2 linked regions of the Homo sapiens genome follow. The protein of the gene in region 2 purifies or fractionates together with the protein of the main gene of each other region. This does not show direct contact. Each region holds a gene or a part of one and is shown on either strand. Other genes may lie near its edges.

What was found.
Region 1: the proteins of ZNF74 (region 2) and P3H2 purify together in Homo sapiens (co-immunoprecipitation; 2 studies listed by BioGRID and IntAct, with this or other methods). This does not show direct contact.

Annotation. Positions count from the first base shown.
Region 1 is NC_000003.12:189,984,842-189,992,431, forward strand, and holds part of P3H2 (prolyl 3-hydroxylase 2 isoform a precursor), read right to left. Parts: intron 4,198-7,590; coding exon 4,066-4,197; intron 2,829-4,065; coding exon 2,686-2,828; intron 2,037-2,685; coding exon 1,947-2,036; intron 1-1,946. UniProt on the Homo sapiens protein: Prolyl 3-hydroxylase that catalyzes the post-translational formation of 3-hydroxyproline on collagens. Contributes to proline 3-hydroxylation of collagen COL4A1 and COL1A1 in tendons, the eye sclera and in the eye lens capsule.
Region 2 is NC_000022.11:20,389,355-20,397,314, reverse strand, and holds the start of ZNF74 (zinc finger protein 74), read right to left. Parts: upstream 3,165-7,960; 5' UTR 2,687-3,164; coding exon 2,653-2,686; intron 1,983-2,652; coding exon 1,897-1,982; intron 1-1,896. UniProt on the Homo sapiens protein: May play a role in RNA metabolism.

The sequences.
Region 1 (7,590 bases), on a different chromosome or scaffold from region 2:
ATATCCATCCTTTTGTCCAAGAAAGTGACTTGGAATTTGGTGGCAGAAAAACATTTGAAAGATCATTCAGTTCAACTTCTTTATGTTTGCTGAATAAAACAAGCAAACAAAATTGAGCTTTAGTAATCATCTGTATAGATCATGAAATTAGTAAATAACATATTTTAAGGTCTCTTGGATAACATAATTTTAAAAGAATAATAAGTAAGGCCCGATATAAATATTAATATATTAGAAGGTGTTATATTAGAAATAGTACATTAAAATTAACCCATTTTAAAAAGTGTGCCTATAAAAACACGGCATAAGAAATGAAAAAAGGTTGTAAATGGACATATTATAAATAATTTTATAAATGTATTAACTTGTATATCATTTGAAGAACTTACATAGTAACCAATGGATAAATGAATAAAACCCATGCCCAAGTAATTAAAAGAAGAGGAAAAATAGTTAATATGTGAAAAGGTTTATTCTTGCTGGTCATCAAAAAAATTACAAGTTAAAATGATGTATTATTTCATACATAATATATAAATAATAAAAGTGATTTTCAAATGTTATTTCTTATCGCTGATAAATTTGTGGTAAAATGGTACTTTTATGCATTACTAGGATTCAAATGCCTGTTCAATCTGTTGTGAGCTATGAGACTTTAGAGTAGTCACTAAATCTTCCCACATGAGATAGTGTTAGTATTAAAATAGTGTGCAAATAAATAATTCCAAGAGAATTATTCTCTTAGTAATCATATATAATTATATATAATTATAAATAAATTAATAATAAATAATTTCTAAGAGAATTCTCTTAGAAAAGCAATTTAGTTTCAAGAAGTTTAAAACCTTATATCCTTTGATGACAGAATAATTCCACTCTTAAGAATTTATTTTCAGGACATAATTCAATAGAGAAAAAATGCTTAATACATTATGTATAATTCAAAAATCAGAAATAATTCAAATGTTCAGCAGAAGAGTTCATTTATTTATTGTATGTCAATTCTACCTATCTAAAATTCTAAATTCTACCAACTTTTTAGAGACTAAAATGTAGCTAAAAATACCTTTTAAAGCTATACAAATGTAGAAATTTCTTATGGTATCTTCTTAAAAGAATACAAATCTCTTTATACCATAGTATATGTTTCTGCAAAAGCTATGTCTTCATATAAACAATGATTAGAAGACAACATGGAAAAGCGGAGTGAAGTCAGCATGATGGGTGTGATAGCATTGTGACTGATGATATTTTGAATTCTCTTTAATGTTTAGGTAACATAAAAGCATTAATAGAAAAATTTAAAACACCACATCCGGAATTTAGGAAAATAAAACACTCCCGGGGCAAATGAGTCATACACAAAATACTTTTACCCAATAGATTTGCTTTTGACTTTAGACCTTGTTAATATGGAATGACTGATGTGGAAATCCATTAGTCTTTTAAAGTTCATCAGATGGCCGGGTGCGGCGGCTCAAGCCTGTAATCCCAGCACTTGGGGAGGCTGAGGCGGGCGGATCACCTGAGGTCAGGAGTCCGAGACTAGCCTGACCAACATGGTGAAACCCCATCTCTACTAAAAATACAAAAAAAAATTAGCTGGGCATTGTGGCGTGTGCCTGTAATCCCAGCTACTCGGGAGGCTGAGGCAGGAGAATTGCTTGAATCCAGGAGGCGGAGGTTGCAGTGAGCCGAGATCACGCCACTGCACTCCAGCCTGGGCGACAAGAGCGAGACTCCATCTCAAAATAAATAAATAAATAAATAGATAAAGTTCATCACATATATTGAGTAAATATCTCCCACCCCCAATTTTTACCTCAAGGAGGGCATCGAAATCTTAGCTTTTTGAGGTAAATGGCAAAAATGGAGGCAGGTAATAAAAACATAAAAAGGATTCCACTGAATCATTATTTTAATAAACGTTTCCTCTTTCCTCTTACCGGTTCAGTGTATGAAAACCCCAGACCTTCTGCAGCTGATTTTATCAGCTCAGACTCCAGCTTATGACGTTTCACAAACATTGTTAAATCCTAGAGAAAAAGAAGTAAAGAAAGACATTTTTTATTTAAATAGCAGGTAAGAGATATGATAAATGTTCAGGTGGCAATATTTTCATTAGATAGTCACAAATGAGCTAACAAATATTCAGAACTGCAAGACTTGGCCCCATCTCAACATACTTTCACACGCTAGCATGTATGAATAAAAATGTGCTTCAGGCATAAATAAAGTTTGAAAGAACCGAGTTCAACAACCTTTGCTAAATTGTTAGACATCTTTAAGACCAGTGTCATATTTTTATCAACTCTCCCCCGAACACATGCAGAATCAAGAATTTCTTTTCAGGCCAGGCGCGGTGGCTCACGCCTGTAATCCCAGCACTTTGGGAGGACGAGGCGGGCAGATCACCTGAGGTCGGGAGTTCGAGACCAGCCTGACCAACATGGAGAAACCCCGTCTCTACTAAAAAAAAAATACAAAATTAGCCGGGTGTGGTGGCATGTGCCTGTAATCCCAGCTACTAGGGAGGCTGAGGCAGGAGAATCGCTTGAACCCGGGAGGCGGAGGTTGCGGTGAGCCAAGATTGTGCCATTGCACTCCAGCCTGGGCAACAAGAGCGAAACTCTGTCTTAAAAAAAAAAAAAAAAAAAGAATTTCTTTTCAAAACATTGGTCTCACCTCTCTGGCCTCAATGGATGCCGGGTCAATGCTATCATCCAGCAGACTCTCATAGTAATCCACATTGTCTAGGACATCCTCATCATCTGGATGGCATAGAAGATAGGCTTTGGCACACTCCAGGGCTTTCACATACTCACCAACTGAAAGACAAAGGAGTTGCAGCATTAGAGTCAGCCTAGGTCTGTCCAAAGGATTTTAAAGGGAGGCCATCAACGTGTCTACAAAGGTCAGCATTAAACATGAATAAGAGGGAAGATAAATTGAGGCTCAGCAGAGAAAGCAGAAACAGTCACAGATAAAAGGAAAGACATGATTTCAAGTATTCAAAAGTTATTACCTTTGGTCTGCTTTGGTACTAGTTGTTTTGTGCAAATCGTCAAGTTTCTATCTGAAGATGTTTGTTGACAACTTTTATTATTTAACACATATAAACAGCAGAATTCTATGAGTTAATTCTGATTTTTGTACCGAGTTTGGGTTAAGTAAACATCCTGAAGGTGATCTTTGCAACAGTAATGTACCATTTTATATATAATGTATGAGTAACATAAGTGCTTTTAAAATGTTATTTTTCATTGCTGCAGTTTGTGGTAAACTGGTACTTCAATGCAAAGTCCTTCATAGAGTCCCAGATGTTCTGGAGGAAGCCCCTTAAATCCTTCACTATACAATTATAGCACATCCTACAGTAGCAAACTACTAAAAGGAACTAACAAGGATGTTTCCAATATAAACTTTTCATTATAGAAATATTTAGCTATTACAAGGGAAATTTTAAATGTCTGTATGCCTTGTTTTCAAATAGTTCACAACATTGTATTTCTTCTAATGGAAATTTACAATATACGTATGTGTGTATATATATGTGTGTGTGTGCATGTATGTGTGTATAATAAATACATACACACACACACACACATATATATATACTCTGAGATGACTCTGATTTTTAAAAGGAATGATAAAAATTAAGCAACTCTCTCATCTTTGATTCACTGTTTATGACTTGAGCACGTGATTCACTGTGTGCCATCAACGCCAGGATAATAAATAATGTTTTGTTTTTGGAAAGGAAGAGGATTTTGCAAAGTTCCTTTTAAATTCAGTTCTAAAAAAATTAAGTCTAAAAAACCATGCAAAATGTCAATCTAGTATAATTTTCAGTAAATTATCACAGCATTAAATTTTGTACTTTGCCCATTGGTGATATCCCCTTCTGCTCTTCTTGTCCTGCAGCTCAGGAGAGAAGAAATGCATAAATTCCTATTGCTTTCATAATAAACTGAAGAAGTCAGAAAACTCAATTACAAAAATGTGATGTCTGTAATGATGAACCACAACCCCCCAAGAAGTCTTCACGGATGATCCACGCTTTACCTCGATAGTAGGCAAACTGTAGGTAATCATAGTGCAGAGGAAGAAAATTCTCGATGGGAGAGAGGCGGCCAGGGCGGGTGGCAAGTTCCCTCACACATTCATGCTGACAAACAAGCACCTGCATGTAGTGATCTGGAAGACAAGAGCCAATACGTGTGTTCCTCCAGGTTGCTGAGTGCCCAAACGTCAACGTCACAGCCACAGTTACACAGGTCATTCCTCACCTCACCACACTGGAAGACCAAATTATTATAATCCTCACTTCCGGACTGCAAAACCTTTTTACAAAGAAAGTAGGTGACTTGCCAAGGTCTCCTGGTCAGCGATCACTAGAACGACAGTAGATTCCGAATCCTCCAGCTCACAGTCTGTTCTCTACACCTCACTTTTCCCTTCCCATGTACACTTTTTATACCCCACAGTCCACTTTACCCCACCTACACCCAGCTGAATGTCAGTTTTCATATTTAACAACTTTGGGGTCTCTCTTTGGATATCTTGGATGGCTCGAAGTGCCCTGGAATCGGGAATGGAAGTTCAGATGCTAGTAAATGTTAAGGAACAGTTTGGAAAAAGAAACCACCATGGGCATGGAAAATTCAGGCTGAGAAGTGAAGCAAAAGTGCTCTTTTTCTTTCTTAACATTTTCAAGCCAAATTGTCCTAAAAGAGAAATAAAAACTCTTTTTTTTTAAACCTATTGGTCAGAAACCTATTCTATCCAGTTATAAATTAGTCTATCGCCTAGACATAGTATATTCTAATACTAAGTACATTGTATATTCTTTACCAGAGACTGGTAAAACAGGCAGAAGGATGTAAACTAAAGGAATGAGCATCTTATTTCCTATTTCTCTTCACTCCCCTTTCTATTGCTCCCATTCTTCTTGCTTGAGAGTCCTGAAGTGTTAGGGTCTTCATGCCACCTTTGGCTCTGGACTCTATTTTATCAAAGCCTGAGATGAGGAAACACAAGTGGTGAATGTCCCAGAGAAGAAAATGCCTCCTACGTTTCACCTTGACTGATTTTTACAATGAAGATGGATGTATTTTCCAGCAAGAAAGATTCATTCATGGCTGCGCTGAGTGGGTTCTTTTGAGAATGATGATAAAATCATTTGATCTCATAGCTGTGCAATTTAATTTACCACAACTGCCTTTTTTTCAAAAGGTTCTCTGTTTAGTCTGAGTTTGGCTTGGATCTTGGTGATTTTGCAGAGGGACCCCAAAACACAACAGGAAGGAAACGTGCATTTTCTGGTGTGGGGGAATGTGCCAGTTTTGTATAACTTGGCTAACTGAATCATTTATAGCACAGCTAATAGAATCCCTAAAGCCCATTGGTTATTAACCCCAGTCAGGGGATGTGAAGGAAGAATGAGTTCTATTTATTTGATTAGCATGTTAGAAATAAATAACCAGCTGTTTCATTTCTTAAGAAAACAAAAATAAACAACCTTCAACTGTTTTCTCCTACTCAACTTACCATTTGCATTTCTATTTACTTTCTAATACACATTCCTTTTAATTCCAAGTGACAAGCAAAAGGTAAAGGCGAAAGATACCCACCGAGAACTCAAAATCTGAATGGAAATATTTTTTCAAAGCGGATACAAATAGCAGCAAAATAGGAGTGACAGAAAGGTATCCTTTAGGGTTTCATAGCAGAGCTAGTAATAAATAACTGCATTCAGCAGCCATTTGTATTTTTCCCGAACTGTTAATGTCTAACTCTAAAATTCAAATATTCTGATTTTCTAATACATTTGCTATTTAAAAAGCCAGTTTTATACCTAATTTAGGACAATTTTGAAGCAGACAAGAATTTACATAGTGAGAGCTGTCATATTACTTTTATTAGGTATATCCCTTGCCTCCTTTCTATCTTAAATGACATTGTGCAATTAATATGTTTTTAATAAGTTTGAGTCTTAAAAATTAAAGAACCTGAGTTATGAGATCTCTATTCTTTTCCAGCTACCGACATGCTGTGGTGACCTTGAGCAAATCACTAAATATTCATCTGTGGGAAATCGTCGGTCCATTTTCCTAAACCAGATCTAGGACATTGGCCAAAACTGTTCAGTGGCCATTGGTGGAAGCAGGTGTAGAGGCGAATGTGGGCGTGAAAGCAGGATGCATATCTCCCCACAACCACAACACAGTTAACTATAATAAAGGAAGAATCTGCCATTCCCAAATACAAGATCAAGTGTAGAGAAATAGCAATTAAAATGTGAACCACACATAAAACTGACATTCCAAAAATTTAGGCAACTGGATCTGGCAGAGATCCAAAAAAATAAAACTTTCAGGAAAATATCCTCAATAATTGAGATTGCTGTATTGAATTTAGGTGAACTGAGTTGATTTTGGGTAACTGGGTGTGTCACAAATTGGTCATTCGTCACATTAATTTTCAGTCTACTTCCTAGTCTAATTTTTGATAGCTATACCCTAATTGTCTCTATAAGAAACCTTAAAAATAATTCTTAACAATAATCCTAAACCTACATTCTCATAAACATGGAGTATTTAACCATTTTAATCCCTGCTATGAGATAGATGGATATATCATCTCCTTCCTTCATTCATTCATTAATCAACCCATTCATTTAACCAGTATTTACTAAGTAAGTATCTACTATTTGCCACTCACTCTTCTTAGGCACTGAAGATTGAGCACTAAACAGGACAAGGCTTTAGCCGAGAGATAGAAGAAAACAACACTTTGAAGATCTGTAAGTGGAAATAAGCATGGCATATTTAAGGAATCAAAAAGCAGGAGAGAGAGTGAGAGGGAGAGAGAGAATGAATGAAAACATACACAAGTGCCCAATCATGAAAGTTCTTATTAAAGAATTGGATTTTATTCCAAGTGGAGTGTAAACCATTTGGGGTGTTTAAACCAGATCTGTGAGCAGAATTTTGTTTTTTTAGAGACTGCTCTGTGGGCATTTGGAGCAAAACCAGAACAGGACATGAAGAGCAACAAGGAGGCAATCACTGTTGCTTTGAGCCAGGGTGGTAGCAAAAGGGGTGGAGGGAGTTAGGAAGTGTTCAGTGCTATTAGGAGATAACCTCTATCCAAGTTTGGTAAAAAATCATATGGGAATAGGAATTAAGGAAGATGTTGGATTGAAAGGTAACTTGGTTTGAGTTATTAGGTGAGTAGTGCTTTTTGTTTGTTTGTTTGTTTTTCCTTTGAGATGGAGTTTCGCTCTTATTGCCTAGGCTGGAGTGCAATGGCACCATCTCGGCTCACTGCAACCTCGGCCTCCAAGGTTCAAGTGATTCTCTTGCCTCAGCCTCCTAAGTAGCTGGGATTACAGGCACCCACCACCACACCTGCCTAATTTTTTATATTTTTAGTAGAGATGGGGTTTCACCATGTTGGCCAGGCTAGTCTCAAACTCCTGAGCTCATGTGATCCACCTGTCTCAGAATCCCAAAGTGCTAGGATTACAGGCATGAGCCACCGCGCCCGGATGAGTAGTGCTTTTTAGGAAGACTGAAAGCACTGGAA
Region 2 (7,960 bases):
CCTAACTGAGGCATGCAGGCATGAAGGATGACGATAGCCGAGGGAAGGAGAAAATGGGCTGAAACAAGGCTCCAAGCCAGGTGTGGGGGCACACACGTTGGTCCCAACTACTTAGGAGGCCGAGGTGGGGGATTTGCTTGAGCCCAGGAGTTGAAGGCTGCAGTGAGCTATGATTGTGCCACTGCACTCCAGCCTGGGCGACAGAGCAAGACTCTGTCTCAAAAAAAAAAAAAGAAAAAGAAAGAAAAACAAAAAAATAGCTCCACAGGTATCAGAATATGGTGTTGGCCAGTGAGGCTGTCAGAGGCTACATGGCTTCAGTGTGGGGAGCAAAACCAGCAAGAGTAGGGTAGGGTCTGAGGCCCGCACAGGCCTTTTTGATGGGTATTTCTGGCCACTGGGAGAAGTCCATGTCTAATGTGTCATCATTCTGCAGGGAAAGGAATAAAAAACCCAGACAGTATGCATTGGAATCAGATGCTGATGTGGTAATGACACTAGCAGAGAAGTCAGAACAGACCACACAAGATGTCCCAGGAGACAGAACAACTTGAACTGTGAGTGAGAATGAGACTGTCAAGAGAAAATGCCAAAGCTGATGTGTACTCAGGAGAGTCAACTGGTTATTCAAAGATCTAACAAGCTAATATTTTAGGAATAGGAATAACACATGCATGAGGGCCCTACCACCTAGACGGAGCTGCACAGACACATACAGACATACATACATGCACACACATTTTTTTTTGCTGAACCATTTGAAGGTAAGTTGCAGACATCATGATGTCTCACTCTACAGTCTTCAGCTTGTATCTCCTGTGGATATTCTCTTACATAATCACAGTACTATTATCACATGCAATAAATTTCATATTGATACAATATGACCTAAGATACAGCCCATTTTCAAATTTCCTCTTGTCCCAAACTGCCCTTTATCAATTTTTTTGGATCTATCCCCTAAGCAAGGAACATGCATTGCATTTGACTGTCAAGTTTCTTGAGGACTATAAAGCATTGTGACACACTACAGAAGTGAGGCACAGCTCACAATACACGTTTTGCAGCTGTTTCTAGCTGGCTATAATCTGCCATCACCTCTTTTGAGTGGCAGACTGACAAAATCACAAAATGCTAAAAAAAAAACAAAAACCCAAAGACCCCTTATTCCTCCACATCTTTCACTCTACTGTGCTCTCTTTGTCAACTGCACCCTTCTAAATACAACCATGGGGTGAGGTGGTTGCGGTAGAAAAACAAAATGAGGAACAGAGTTCACAGTCTGTAAAAGGAGGGATCTGGGTCCCATTTGGCTGCAGAAGTTCCCAGGGCCAATTCCTTGCTGAGCCCCCAGATTCTCTAAATCTCCAGGACTCTCCATGAAGGCCCCATGCCAGGGGCTGGGTACAGAGGAAAGCACACAGGGATGTGTCCCCTACCGCCACTCTTAACCAAGTGCTGCAATCCAGCCCTTCCTGAGCTGCTCCACGTGCCCCTGTCTGATTCCAGTCCCAGTAAACCAACCGTGCAAACATCCTGCACCAACCCCTGGCCAGCACGTGGATAGGCAAAGCGACCCCATGTGAGCCGTCAACTACTTTCTCAGATTCCACTAAAACCACTCCTCAGAGCTCCCAGCACAGCGCTGGGCAGAGAGATCCCCAGCAACTGACCCACTGAATTGGACTGGGCGAGACATTCAATAGAGCACATCTCGAGGGCACACCTCGGGCAACATCTGGACTCTTCACTTGGAGCTGTTCCCACTGCCCAGAGCTTCCTGAGGACTGGCCAGCAGGTACCCGGGTGAAGGTCTGTGGAAGGCTGACGATCCAGGGCTGGGGAGGGAATGTGCCAACCCTCTTCATAAAGAAGGAAGAACACACAGCCACTCACCTTGGACCTGGCTTCGGGAAGACCCCAACCCGATATATCCTCGAGATTCTCTTTCAGGGAAAGAGCAGGATCCTGAGAGGAAAGAGCTGGCGAAGGAGAAATGAGTCAAGGTCACGGCTACCAGGCTCACGGCTGAGCTTAAAGCCCACCTGTCGTGGCACAAGTGAGAATCAGAGAGGAGGCAGAACCTGCCAGCAAGGCCAGGTGGGGAACGAGCCCCAGTAGCTAGCACCAACAGAAACAGCATCGAGGAATAATCTGCCTGTGTCTCAGACACTCCAATTCATGACGAAAAGAGCTGCTACCCCCAATCAAGCACGTCTGAGTGGGAACAAATGATTGGGCGCGGGGAAGAAAGAAGCAGGAGGCCAGGAGCGATGGCTCACGCCTGTAATCCCAGCACTTTGGGAGGCCGAGGCGGGCGGATCGCTTGAGCTTAAGACCAGCCTGGGAAACATGGCAAAACCCCGTCTCTACTAAAAATACAAACATTAGCCGGGCGTGGTGGCGCGCGCCTGCAATCCCAACTACTTGGGAGGTTGAGGCGGGAGAATAGTTTGAACCCGGGAAGCAGAGGTTGCAGTGAGCGGAGATCAAGCCATTGCACCACTCCCGCCTGGGTGACAGAGTGAGATTCCATTTAAAAAAAAAAAAAAAGATGCTGGATGCTTCTGGGAAACTGGCCTGATCTCTCTGAGTGTCAATATCCTCAAGTGCAAATCCACAGACATACTGACTACAAGAGTGAAGCTGTACCTGTCTTCTCGGGCTCCGGGGCAGGGATCTCCATGGCCTCCACGGCAGCCTCCCCAGGAGGAGTGGGCAGCTGTGTAGCCTCCAGGATCCAGGGCAGGCCCTGAAGAGCGAGTACTGCTCCTGGGGCTGAGGGGCCTGCAGCGGAGCCCCGCGGGGCGGCCACGCGCTCACAGCTGCACGATCACACGCACGGAGCCCCCTCCCCGCGCCCGGCTGAGGTGGGGTTCAGGCCGGCTCCGCAGATACCCACTCCCCACACCAGGCTCAGCCCCATGCTCGGCGCACTCACGCCCCGGCACACCCCCGCCACACGCTCCTCCCGGCGAACCCGCGCTCGGAGACCAGGGCCAGGCCTAAGGTTCCGCGGCCAGGAGCCATCGGACGCGGAGCGACCAGCGGACAGGTCCCGAAGCGGACAGAGACCGCCGACGGTCTGAGGGACCGGCAAGTGGACAGACCGGACTCCCACAAAAGGACTGCGACTGCCACAAAGAGCAGCAGGCGGCCGCTGCGGGAAAGCGCGCCTGCGCGAAATAGGCGCAAACTACACCTCCCGGGAGCGTTTGCGCCGCGCAGGCGTCAGACTCCATTTCCTAGAGCGAGTTCGGGCCGGTGCTTGCGTCCCGACGCGAACGAGTATCTAGCACATCCTTCTAGGAAATGTAGTTCCTGGGCCCACAGCCGGGAGCTCCGGCACCCACCATGCTCTTGCGGGCGGATGTCGCTGTGTATCTCCGTGTGCGGATCAGTGTAGTGCCGCTGCATGGGTGTCTAATTGCGAGGATACTGGGAGGGCGGTGTCCAGGAACTAGAATTTGTCCTGTTAGTTCGTCCACGTCCCCACGTAGCTGGGAGTCGGGTGGGTTCCTGCCCACATCTGTCTGCAGGAAAGACTCAAGCCCCTGGTCTTACGGATATTGGGAGTGGTGGGTCTGGCCTCGAGGGGTTTTCCAGGGGCCCTGCCCCCACTCCCCCTTCTCGAGCCACATATCTGAGGCCCATGGGCGCGGGTCCCCAGAGGTGGGAGAGCCTTGGCCTAGTCCCCCCAGAGGGTCCTGTCCACAGTTCACCCCTGGGGCGGGAAAGGAAGGTCTGGGTGGCGGCCCAGTCCTGGCGGCACAGAGCTCTGCCATGAACACAGTGATGACGCCAGCGACAGAAACATTGAATATGTACTGAGCACCAACCAAACGCCAGGCCTACTTCAAGAGCTTGGAGTACATTTTTCTGGCAGAATGCTCACAGCAGTCCAGGGAGGTTTGCTAACTACTGTCATCCCATTTGGGAGATGAGGAAGTTGTGGTACAGGTGCGTGGGGTAACGTGTCGCAAATCACACAGCCAGAAGTAGGAATCCAGCACCGAAGTGCATTGCCACATTCCTACTGAGAGGTGGTCCGGGGTGGTGCACACTCCAAACCCTTCAGCCTCCCACCTTAACCGCAGCTTAGGCTTGGCCACAGGCTCTCACGTGACACCTGTCCACTGCCCACATCAGCACAGCTGTGCCCAGACCTCCCCTGCCCAGGGCAGCGCCCGTGTTTGATTTTGTTTTGAGACTGGGTCTCACTCTGTCGCCCAGGCTGGAGTGCAGTTGCACAATCACGGCTCACCGTAGCCTCAGTCTCTCGGGCTCAAACTATTCTCCCACCTCAGCCTCCGGAGTAGCTGGGACTTACAGACATGCACCACCACGCCCGGTTAATTTTTATATTCAGCGCCCATTTTTAATAGCAACCCAGTGAGAGGGGACAGCGTGCTGGCAGTCCTCACAGCCCTTGCTCGCTCTCGGCGCCTAGTCGGCCTTGGCGCCCACTCTGGCCGCGCTTGAGGAGCCCTTCAGCCCACCGCTGCACTGTGGGAGCCCCTTCCTGGGCTGGCTGCGGCCGGAGCCGGCTCCCTCAGCTTGCCGAGAGGTGTGGAGGGAGAGGCGCGGGCGGGAACCGGGACTGCGCGCAGCGCTTGCGGGCCAGCACGAGTTCCGGGTGGGCGTGGGCTCAGCGGGCCCCGCACTCGGAGCTGCCAGCCGGACCCGGGCAGTGAGGGGCTTAGCACCTGGGCCAGCAGCTGCTGTGCTCGACTTCTCGCCGGGCCTTCGTTGCCTCCCCGCGGGGCAGGGCTCGGGACCTGCAGCCCGCCATGCCTGAGCCTACCCACCGCCGTGGGCTCCTGCGCGGCCCAAGCCTCCCCGACAAGCGCCGCCCCCTGCTCCACGGCGCCCAGTCCCATCGACCACCCAAGGGCTGAGGAGTGCGGGCGCACGGCGCGGGACTGGAAGGCAGCTCCACCTGCGGCCCCGGTGCGGGATCCACTGGGTGAAGCCAGCTGGGCTTCTGAGTCTGGTGGGGACTTGGAGAACCTTTATGTCTAGCTAAGGGATTGTAAATACACCAGTGGGCACTCTGTGTCTAGCTTAAGGTTTGTAAACACACCAATCAGCACCCTGTGTCTAGCTCAGGGTTTGTGAATGCATCAATCGACACTGTATCTAGCTACTCTGCTGGGGACTTGGAGAACCTTTATGTCTAGCTAAGGGGTTGAAAATACACCAATCGGCACTCTGTATCTAGCTCAAGGTTTGTAAACACACCAATCAGCACTCTGTGTCTAGCTCAGGGTTTGTGAATGCATCAATCAACACTGTATCTAGCTACTCTGGTGGGGACTTGGAGAACCTTTATGTCTAGCTAAGGGATTGTAAATACACCAATTGGCACTCTGTATCTAGCCCAAGGTTTGTAAATGCACCAATCAGCACTCTGTGTCTAGCTCAGGGTTTGTGAATGCACCAGTGGACACTCTGTATCTAGCTAATCTAGTGGGGACGTGGAGAACTTTTGTGTCTAGCTCTTTGGGTCCACGCTGCCTTTATGAGCTGTTAACACTGCGAAGGTCTGTAGCTTCACTTCTGAAGCTAGCGAGACCACGAACGCACCAGAAGGAAGAAACTCCGCGCACGCTGCGTTTAAGAACTGTGACACTCACCACGAGGGTCTGTGGCTTCATTCTTGAAGTCAGTGAAACCAAGAACCCACCAATTCTGGACACACCAGGACAAGAGCCTTGGTGGGGTATAGAACTGTTGATTACACAGTGCATGAGTCTATGTGTAAGTTTGTGTATGTGTTTGTTTCTCTGTGTATCTTACAGGTGTAGGTGTGGGTCCGCTTTTGCCTCACATTTCTTATGTGTTTCTGTCCTGGTGTGCCTCTGTGAAACAATGTGTACGTGCACCTGTGCACAGGTGACTCTATGAGTGTGTATGTGGGCACTGTCTCAACAGTTCTGGAGTCTGGATACGTGTTTGTGTGCAGGCTTGTGTACATGGGACAGGAACCTGTACATGGGAGTGGAACTTGTGTGCACGGTGTGCTTGCTGATGAGTCTAATGTGATTATCTGTTGGCATCTGGCTGTTGACTAACAGGTCAGGTCTGAGTCTTTCTTTTTTTGTTTTTGAGATGGAGTCGCGCTCTGTTGTCCAGGCTGGAGTGCAGTGGCGCAATCTCAGCTCACTGCAATCTCTGCCTTCTGAGTAGCTGGGACTACAGGTGCCCGCCATCACACCCGGCTAATTTTTTTGTAATTTTAGTAGAGATGGGGTTTCACCATGTTAGCCAGGATGGTCTCAATCTCTTGACCTCGTGATCCACCCGCCTCGACCTCCCAAAGTGCTAGGATTACAGGCCTGAGCCACCATGCCTGGCTGGGTCTGAGTCTTTCTGTATAAGTGCACATGTGTATGTGTGTGTGTGCCTCACTGTTTACACAGATCTGAATGTATGACTGGCATATCTGTGCATGTAACTCTGCAGTTCATCTCTGTAGATTGTGGATGTATCATCTATGTCTGCTTGCCTGAGTGTGTTCTGTGTGATAGTGAGTAGATGCCTTACGCCAGTGACTATGGACGGCGTCTTGTTCAGGTGAATTTGTAGACCTGTGTGTGTGTGTGGTTCTCTCAAAGTTCTAGTTTGTTGTGAGATGGTATGCACCTCTTTTCATTTGTGGGGCTGTAGACCTCGCAGGTCCAGTTGTGGCTGTGTGTGTGCCTGCATGTGTTCTTCTGTATGCCACTCTGTGTTGACTTCCAGGGCTCATCAGTGTCAGTACGTGCATCCTTGTGTACATGTGTATGTCACTGTGGGCCTCATGGATCCCCTGTGTCTGTAGGAAAGCCAGTGTGAGCCCAGGGATTCTATATTGAGTGCTCTGTCACCTGTGTCTCTGCAAAGGCTGTAGGGACAGGGATGTGTTCAGCCTGAAGGGAAGAGTGGAAGGGAGGATGCTGTTACTGCTTTCTGCTCACTATAGACTTCTGAGGATGGGAAAGGCATTTACCGCAAGACAATTTAGCCTAAGATTCTCACTTACATAAGAAGTCCCAGGTCATGTTCTTGTTCCTAAGTTCTCTGATTCCTCAATTCTCGAGGGTTGACTAGCAGGGCTGTGTGAAGGCCCAGTGAAATAATGGATATATATGCCCTTTTTTTTTTTTCCTGAGATGGAGTCTCACTCTGTTGCCCAGGCTGGAGTGCAGTGGTACCATCTCGGCTCACTGCAATCTCCGTCTCCCGGGTTCAAGCAATTCTCCTGCCTCAGCCTCCCTAGTAGCTGGAACTACAGGCACCTGCCACCACGCCTGGCTAATTTTTGTATTTTTGGTAGAGATGGGTTTCACTATGTTGGCCAAGCTGGTCTCGAACTCCTGACTTCAGGTGATCTGCCTACCTTGGCCTCCCAAAGTGCTGGGATTACAGGCATGAACCACCATGCCTGGCCTAAAGGCTTTTAAAATTCACTTATATAAGCTGACTTAGTTTTCTTTAACTTTGTAGAAAAATACAAAAATGGCAATCTCTTTTATCACACAAATGTCTTTTTAATAGAGTTTTTTTCTAATTGATGTATTATGTATTTTTCATTCACTAATTATTAATTGCTTACATTTGAAGTGTTTGATGAATTAATATTTAATTGCATAGATGAAGATGACTAGTCATAGGCATTTTACTAACCAATACTCATTGGATTCATGTGATGTTGCAGGCCGAAAGAGGGAGGGTCATGATCAACTCGGTGTACCACTGGAGGTTATATGAGTAAACAGTAAACTGTTCTCATGAATGCAGAATGTTGGCAAACTGCGTCTGCCACCCAGAGGGAATGCTGAGGGCAGTCATGCCCCAGGCGCGGCGTTTCTTGAGATTAGGCACATCTGAAACCTGTTAGCAATAATGTGAACCTGTGATCAATTGAGAAGCTGACCAATCATTACCTCCTGCTCCCTGCTCTTTCTACTCAATAAAT